2 linked regions of the Homo sapiens genome follow. The protein of the gene in region 2 interacts with the protein of the main gene of each other region in a pairwise test. Each region holds a gene or a part of one and is shown on either strand. Other genes may lie near its edges.

What was found.
Region 1: the proteins of DEPDC1B (region 2) and EBPL interact in a two-hybrid assay, tested with the Homo sapiens proteins (one large-scale study listed by BioGRID and IntAct).

The regions. Positions count from the first base shown.
Region 1 is NC_000013.11:49,670,722-49,674,549, forward strand, and holds part of EBPL (emopamil-binding protein-like), read right to left. Parts: intron 1-3,828. UniProt on the Homo sapiens protein: Does not possess sterol isomerase activity and does not bind sigma ligands.
Region 2 is NC_000005.10:60,693,442-60,697,269, reverse strand, and holds part of DEPDC1B (DEP domain-containing protein 1B), read left to right. Parts: intron 1-3,828.

The sequences.
Region 1 (3,828 bases), on a different chromosome or scaffold from region 2:
GAGTTTCTGATATATTATTCTATTACTTACACAAATTTGTAACTTAAGTAAAAAAACTGAAAACCTCAGCTCACTCACTCATCAATTTTGTGCAGTCTCTGGGCTTCTAAACCACGAAAGAGTATGACAGCCTCTACCAGGCTCCCCGCACCCTGTTCCCAACTCTCAATTTCTGTCCAGTTTGCTTGTGCATTGTTGAGACTGATTACATGTCCTTTCTTGTTCTCTAAACATATTTGTTTTCCCTGTTTTATCTGTAACTGGATTCTAAAAGCTGAAAAAGCCAATTAACAGCATTTACAATGTTGTGATTATGGAAACAGCGTTCACTGTAATGGGCCACAATTTCTTTCCTTAGGGATCCCGTATCCTGACTCCTGTGTCATTTAAGGATAATGCTGCAAATGAAGTATCCTTTGTTTTCTTTTTCTGAGATAGTCTCACTCTGAAGCTGAAGATAGGCTGGAGTGTGGTGGTGCAACCTCAGCTCACTGCAACCTACGCCTCCCGGGTTCAAGCGATTCCAGTGCCTCAGACTCTCAAGTAGCTGGGACCACAGGCGTGTGACACCACATTCAGCTAATTTTTGTTATTTTTAGTAGAGATGGGATTTCACCATGTGGGCCAGGCTGGTCTTAAACTCCTGGCCTCAAGTGATTTCCCCACCTCGGCCTCCCAAAGTGCTGGGATTACAGGTGTGAGTCACCGTGCCAGGCTCCAAAAATCATATCCCTTAAAGGACATTAAAAAAATCATATGAGAAAAATAGCTGTGTTTTTAACAAATAAGTACTCCCCAGTCCACTTACTTTGCAACACTTTATTTTTACCAGCCAATTTTTTATTTTTAGCAGAGCCATAGGGTGAAATCCATACCACTTCCTTGCTCTGGCCTGAGAACTTTCTACACAAAGCACATCCACTGGGCTGGCCAGTGGGGCAATGGGGCTGGACTGGATTTGACCCTCTCTAGGCCTCAGGCCATCTATCTGTAAGATGAAGGACTTCCTTCCTATAGATTGTAAATCTCATCCTAAAACGAAATGCAACCTCCACTGGCGACCTCTTTCACTGGACCCATTAGTAAGATGTGGAGTCTGACACCAGGTTGCAGACCTTTCCACAGAAGCAACTCTGGGTAAGAGCAAGATGGGGAACTGGAAATCAGTAACATGCAGGAACCTATGAGTCTATAACAAATCCGTTTCCTTTTACATCTACTTGTTGAAGCTCTACTCATTTTTCAAATCCCAGCCCTAACCCCCTTCTTCAAGAAACCTTCTTTGACCTCCTAGTGAGAATTAATATCTCACTCTCCTAAATCTCCCATGTGGCTAAGTTTGTTTCTGTAACCAGCAGCTATCTGCTCGCTATGGACCCCCAGCTCCCATTGGATCACACATCATTGGGATCTGGAATACTGTCATCTCTACCTTAGAATCCCCAAGAAACATGACATTTGTGTTCCGTGTTTGCTAACCTTGAATTAAGTTCATACAACAAATTACTTATAAAGAAGGATGCCCTGAAGAGGCTTTTAGACTGCCCTATCTCTTACTGTATTAATGTCCTAAATGTAAAGATAGTATAATACATATCAAGTGTAACGAATATTCATGCCTTCAAATGCTGATCAGGTGTCACCTCCTCCAGGAAGCAAGATTTTACTATTCTCCTGCTGGGAGGTCAGTGCCCTCCTACACAGAAACTTGCTCACTTGTCTCTTCCCAAAACTGCCAGTTCTCTGAGGGCCAATTCTTTCTCTTTTATCTCTGTATTGCAAATGGCTAACACATAGAACATGCTAATAAGCGTTTCCTAAAAGAGTAAGAAATAAAAGGGATAATAGAAAACAAGACAGTTAAAAATAATAATAACAATAATAATAATCTGGTTAGAAGATGGGCAAAAGAAATGAATAGACATCTCACCGGAAAGTACATAAAGATGGCAAATAAGCACATGGAAAGATGTTCAACCTCATTAGCCACCAAGGAAACACACCTTCAAGCCACAGTGAGGTATGACTGTATAAACTATCAGAATGGCTAAAATAAGGTTGGGTGTGGTGGTTCACGCCTGTAATCCCAGCACTTTGGGAGGCCTGGGCGGGCGAATCACGAGGTCAGGAGTTTGAGACCAGCCTGGCCAACATGGTGAAACCCCACCTCTACTAATAATACAAAACAATTAGCCGGGTGTGGTGGTGTGTGCCTGGAGTCCCGGCTACTTAGGAGGCTGAGGCAGGAGAATCGCTTGAACCGGGAGGCAGAGATTGCAGTGAGCCGTGATTGTGCCACTGCACTCCAACCTTGGCGACAGAGTGAAACTGTGTCTCAAAAAGAAAGAAAAGGAAAGGAAAGGAAAAGAAAGGCTAAAATAAAAAATAGTGGCAACATAAAAAAATACTGGCAACATCGAATACTGGTGAGGATGTGGAAAAACTGAAACAAACACAGATTTCTGAAGGGATAGAAGCGATACAGCCACTAAAAAAAACCAGAGTTTGGCAGTTTCTTCTAAAACTAAATATGCAATGACCATACGACCCAGCAATTCCACAGTTGGGTATTTCTCCCAGAAAAATAAAAACTTATCATCTTTATACAAAAACAACTACACGAATGTTCATAGCAGCTTTATTTGTGGTAACTAAAAACTGATGTCCTTCAAAAAGCCAATCCCAAAAGCTTACATAATGGTTACATTTATTTTTATTTCTGTATTTATTTTTTGAGACACAGTTTCACTCTGTTGCCCAGGCAGGAGTGCAGTGGCTCGATCTTGGCTCACTGCAACCTCCACCTCCCATGTTAAGGGATTCTCTTGCCTTAGCCTCCCAAGTAGCTGGGATTACAGGAATGCACCACCACGCCCACCTAATTTTTGTATTTTTAGTAGAGATGGGGTTTCACCATGTTGGCCAGGCTGGTCTCGAACTCCTGACCTCAAGCGATCCACTCGCCTCAGCCTCCCCAAGTGCTGGGATTACAGGCTTGAGCCACCATGGCCAACCCTGTGGTTACATTTATATAACATTTTTCTGAAATGATAGATTTTAGAAATGGAGGACATTGTTAGTGGTTGCCAGGGGTTAAGGGATGGAGGTGTGGGGTGGGGGGATGTGTAGTTATAAAAGGAAAACACTAGGGATCCTTGTTAGTGCTGGAACTATTCAATACCTGGGCTGTTGTGGTTGATATATGAATCTACCCAGTTGATACAATTATATGGAACTTAATACACACACACACACACACACACACACACACCACACAAAGAAACTGACAGTCTGAAAAAGATCAGTGGACTGTATCAATGTCCATATGATGGTTATATTATACTATAGTTTTACAAAATTTTTGGTACCAAAATTATCAAAATAGAAAATAACTTTTTCTTTTTTTAGACAGAGTCTTGCTCCCCAGGCAGGAGTGCAGTGGTGCGACCTTGGCTCATTCAACCTCCGCCTCCTGGGTTCAAGCAATTCTCCTGCCTCAGCCTCCCAAGTAGCTGGGGTTACAGGTGCCCGCCACCATGCCTGGCTAATTTTTTGTATTTTTAGTAGAGATGGGGTTTCGCCATGTTGGCCAGGCTGGTCTTGAACTCCTGACCTCAGGTGATCCACCTGCCTTGGCCTCCCAAAGTGCTGGGATTACAAGTGTGAGCCACTGCACCTGGCTGAAAATAATTTTTTAAAAACCCACCAAAATGTTAGCATCGTGGAAACCTGGGAAAAGTAAACAAGGGACCTCTGTATTATTTCTTACAACTGTATGTGAATCTACAATTACCTCAAAATAAAAAGTTAATTAAAGAAACAGAGAAA
Region 2 (3,828 bases):
AAAGTCTTATTTGAAAATAACATTTTGTGGATTAGGTAAAATGTTATGACAAAAGTCAAATGACAGCCCCAACTCATGATAAATGTGAAGCTAGTTATCCATTTATACATTTTCACTGAAATAACTTTCATCTTTGTAAACTTGGTATAAATAGTTCATTCAAGTAGAGAGAAAAATTTTTTTTCTAGAAACTGCTTAAATCTTTGAACTTATTCTGAGTTATATATATGGTCTGATGCAACTGATAAATTTTAAAAGACATACAGCTTTCATTGAATCTGAGAGTTAGAATGGCAAGATCACACAACGAGGTTGTGGCAAGTGCAAGTAGATCTAGGAGTGGTTGTCACTGAACTCCCAGACCAGTCAGTTTTCTTTATAGCACCGCTATCATAATATTTTTGGTACTAAGAAGAAATGAAATGGAATATCCTGGAGAAAAGAACAGGATGCACAGCAGTAGGTGTATGTCTTATAGTTTGCCTCATCATGTTAAGAAAAAACAATTGTGTGATTTTATTTTTTCCTGAGAAACTAGGGGACTGAAATTAATAAGTAGAGCAAAACAAAAAGTGTTTTAAAATCATAAAACAAATCTGTTTTGTTCCATTTGTTGTAAAGATTCTCTTCAAATATAATGTCATGAAAAAAAAACTCAAGCTCTTTCTTGTTATTTATTGACAGAGGATATTTTGTTTCCAAAAGTGACTGAGAATGGTATATTGTTAGATTATTTAAAGATACTTATTTTTCTTTCTGAGCAGAGTAGCCAAATAACCCCTTAGTTATATTTGGAAATAAGTGGGAACAGAGACCAAAGTGACCTCAGTAGGCTTTAAAAAATCTAAAGTATTTCATATATTAAGGAAATATAACCCATAATGATAAATGCCATTCAAAATCAAAATGAGTAAATTCAAAAGTCTATTTATAAATGCTCTTTTTAAAAGGGGCAATGAGACTTTGATAAAGATGTTTTATTAGACATTTTCTAGTATGAAATAAAAGTCAGTAGCAATAGAGCAGTTAATCCATTCTGAATCCTAATGGATTTTTTTTTCCTGTGTGGGAGAATGCAATGAATTGAAAGCTCATGCTGAAGAGTAAAATTCTGAGAACTGAAAAAAGTTTTCCCTCACAAAAAGAAATGAACTTCACAAAAAGAAATTTTCACGCTGGGTGCGGTGGCTCATGCCTGTGATCTCAGCACTTTGGGAGGCCGAGGCGGGTGGATCACGAGGTCAGGAGATCAAGACCATCCTGGCCAACATGGTGAAACCCCGTCTCAACTAAAAATACAAAAATTAGCTGGGTGTGGTGGCACATGCCTGTAATCCCAGCTACTTGGGAGGCTGAGGCAGGAGAATCACTTGAACCAGGGCGTCGGAGGTTGCAGTCAGCCGAGATCACGCCACTGCACTCCAGCCTGGGCACCAGAGCGAGACTCTGTCTCAAAAAAAATAAAAAAAGAAAGAAGTTTTCACATTCCCTTACAAAGAAGACAGGGGCCTTGTCCTACCAGGGATTTATACTTGGTATTAATTGACTGTAATGACAACTGTATGGTATTACACAGGAACAGATAGTCGCTCAGTGGGATAGAAACAATCAAGAAGTGTGATATGTAAGGTTACTTAATAATATTTCTGTTCATTTAGAAAAGCATGGCATAATTGACTCTTGATATGGTTTGGACGTTTATCCCCTCCAAATCTCATGTTGAAATGTAATCCACAGTGTTGGAGGTGGGGCCTAGTGGAGGTGTTTGGGTCACTGGGGCAGATCACTCATGAATGGCCTGTTGCTGTCCTCATGACAATGAGTGAGTATTCACTCTGAGTTCATGTGCGATCTGATTGTTTAAAAGTGTGGCACCCTGTCCCTCACTCTCTCTTGTTCCCCCCTTGCTGTGTTATGTGCCTCCTTCTGCCTGCTTCCGCTTCACCTTCTGCCTTGAATAAAAGCTTCCTGAGGCCTCACCAGAAACTGAGCAGATGCTGGCACCATGTTTCTTGTACACTCTGCAGAACCGTAAGCTGATTAAACCTCTTTCCTTTATAAATTACCCAGTGTCAGGTATTTCTTTACAGCAACGCAAGAATGGACTAACACAACTCTCCATCCAGAAAAAAATAGAGATCCCCTGCCTCCCACCATATAAAATTCAGTTAAAGGTTTACATATTAAAAAACATACCCTCTAAAATATTAAAAGGAAATTTTGATAAATATTTTAATACCTCAGGATAGGGAAGCTTTCTTAAGAGAATAAACCCTGAACTGATAAAGAAAATAGATAATTATTTCCTTATAAAAACATCAACATCTACAACAAAATCATTGTATAGCTAGAGACTATGTAAAGAAATTGATAGGCTAAGATAAAACATTTGTAACATATAACAAAAAGGTTTAATATTCTATATTCATCAGTACATATTAAATGGGTATACTATATGTCAGGCACTGGTCTTTGTTGTGAGGATATTGAGCTGAACAAAATCGATTAACTTTCCTGACTTCTGTGCCCTTTAAACATTAACAGATTAAACAGTTCTTAAAATTGATTTTAAAAAAGAGATAACCCAATAGAAAAATGGCAAATCTCAGAAGAAGAAATGAATATGACTAAAGGTAAAGATATGAAAATGCAAACAAAATATGGATCTATCATTTCTTTTACATAGATTGGCAGAAATGAAAGAAATGATAACATCTAGTGTAGGCCAAAGTGTAAGGCTTTAGGCTCCCACATTGTTGGTGGAAGTGTGAATTGCTACAACTGATTTAAATATGCTGATACTTTTTAGAAGTCTATCAAAAGTAAACAAAAGCCTTGGTACTTTAGGTTATATAAACAAGTATAACTTGTAACATATTTGTAAAAATTGAACTGGGCAGAACTTGGATGACCATTTGTTAGAAAATGGCAGAATAAATTATGGCACATTCTTAAGAATGGGCTAGATCTGCAGGTATGACGCAGGGAGGTATCTGTTAGGTGCAAAAGCGTGTTTTAGGATAACATATACAACATGATTGATCTCATTTTTTAAAATGGCAAACAACAATAAATGACACACCTACAAAGGAAAAATTCTGTCTATGTGTCTGTATGTGATAGGTATGGAGTAAGACATGCAAACTCTTTTGTGTATACTTCTGTATTTAATTTGTTTGTTTCAATGAGTGTTATTACTTCTGTAATTAAAAGAACAACAGAACTGCTAACCAGACTGGGTCAATTAGTGGATATACCTAGTGATATTTGGAAATATTGGGTCCCAGAGAGCCATGCCTTCATTATGTTTATGTAATGCATAAGGTATTATGCATTAGGTAATTTTAGTTCATGATTATGATTGTTCAACCAACATAAACAAAAATCTTTTTTATTACCCCTTCCCCCGGCCCTACATACTTGATTATGCCTTTTCGGTACAACAATCTAATGATAAATGAAAGCTAGGTATCAGGGCATGTATTAAAAAAATCAATAATCAATGATTAAAAATATGTGAAAATTGTTTAAAGGTATGGTAATATCCATAGGTACTTGGTATAGTGAAATGACTACTTGAAGAAAAGTCCGTAGCACAGGATTCCAGATCTTATTCACAGACTAAGTACCTGAATGACATTTGCTAAGTTGTGTATCCTGCTAAGGTCTTGATTTTGTCCCAAAGATTTTTTCCAGCTCTAGAATAGATTGAACCTTATAATTTAAGAGATATCCTGGACATTTTATATATTATCCTTAAATTTGAGGAACGCATTTTTAACAAAGGACTTTTATAGTCATGATCTCATTTGATCTTACAATAACCTT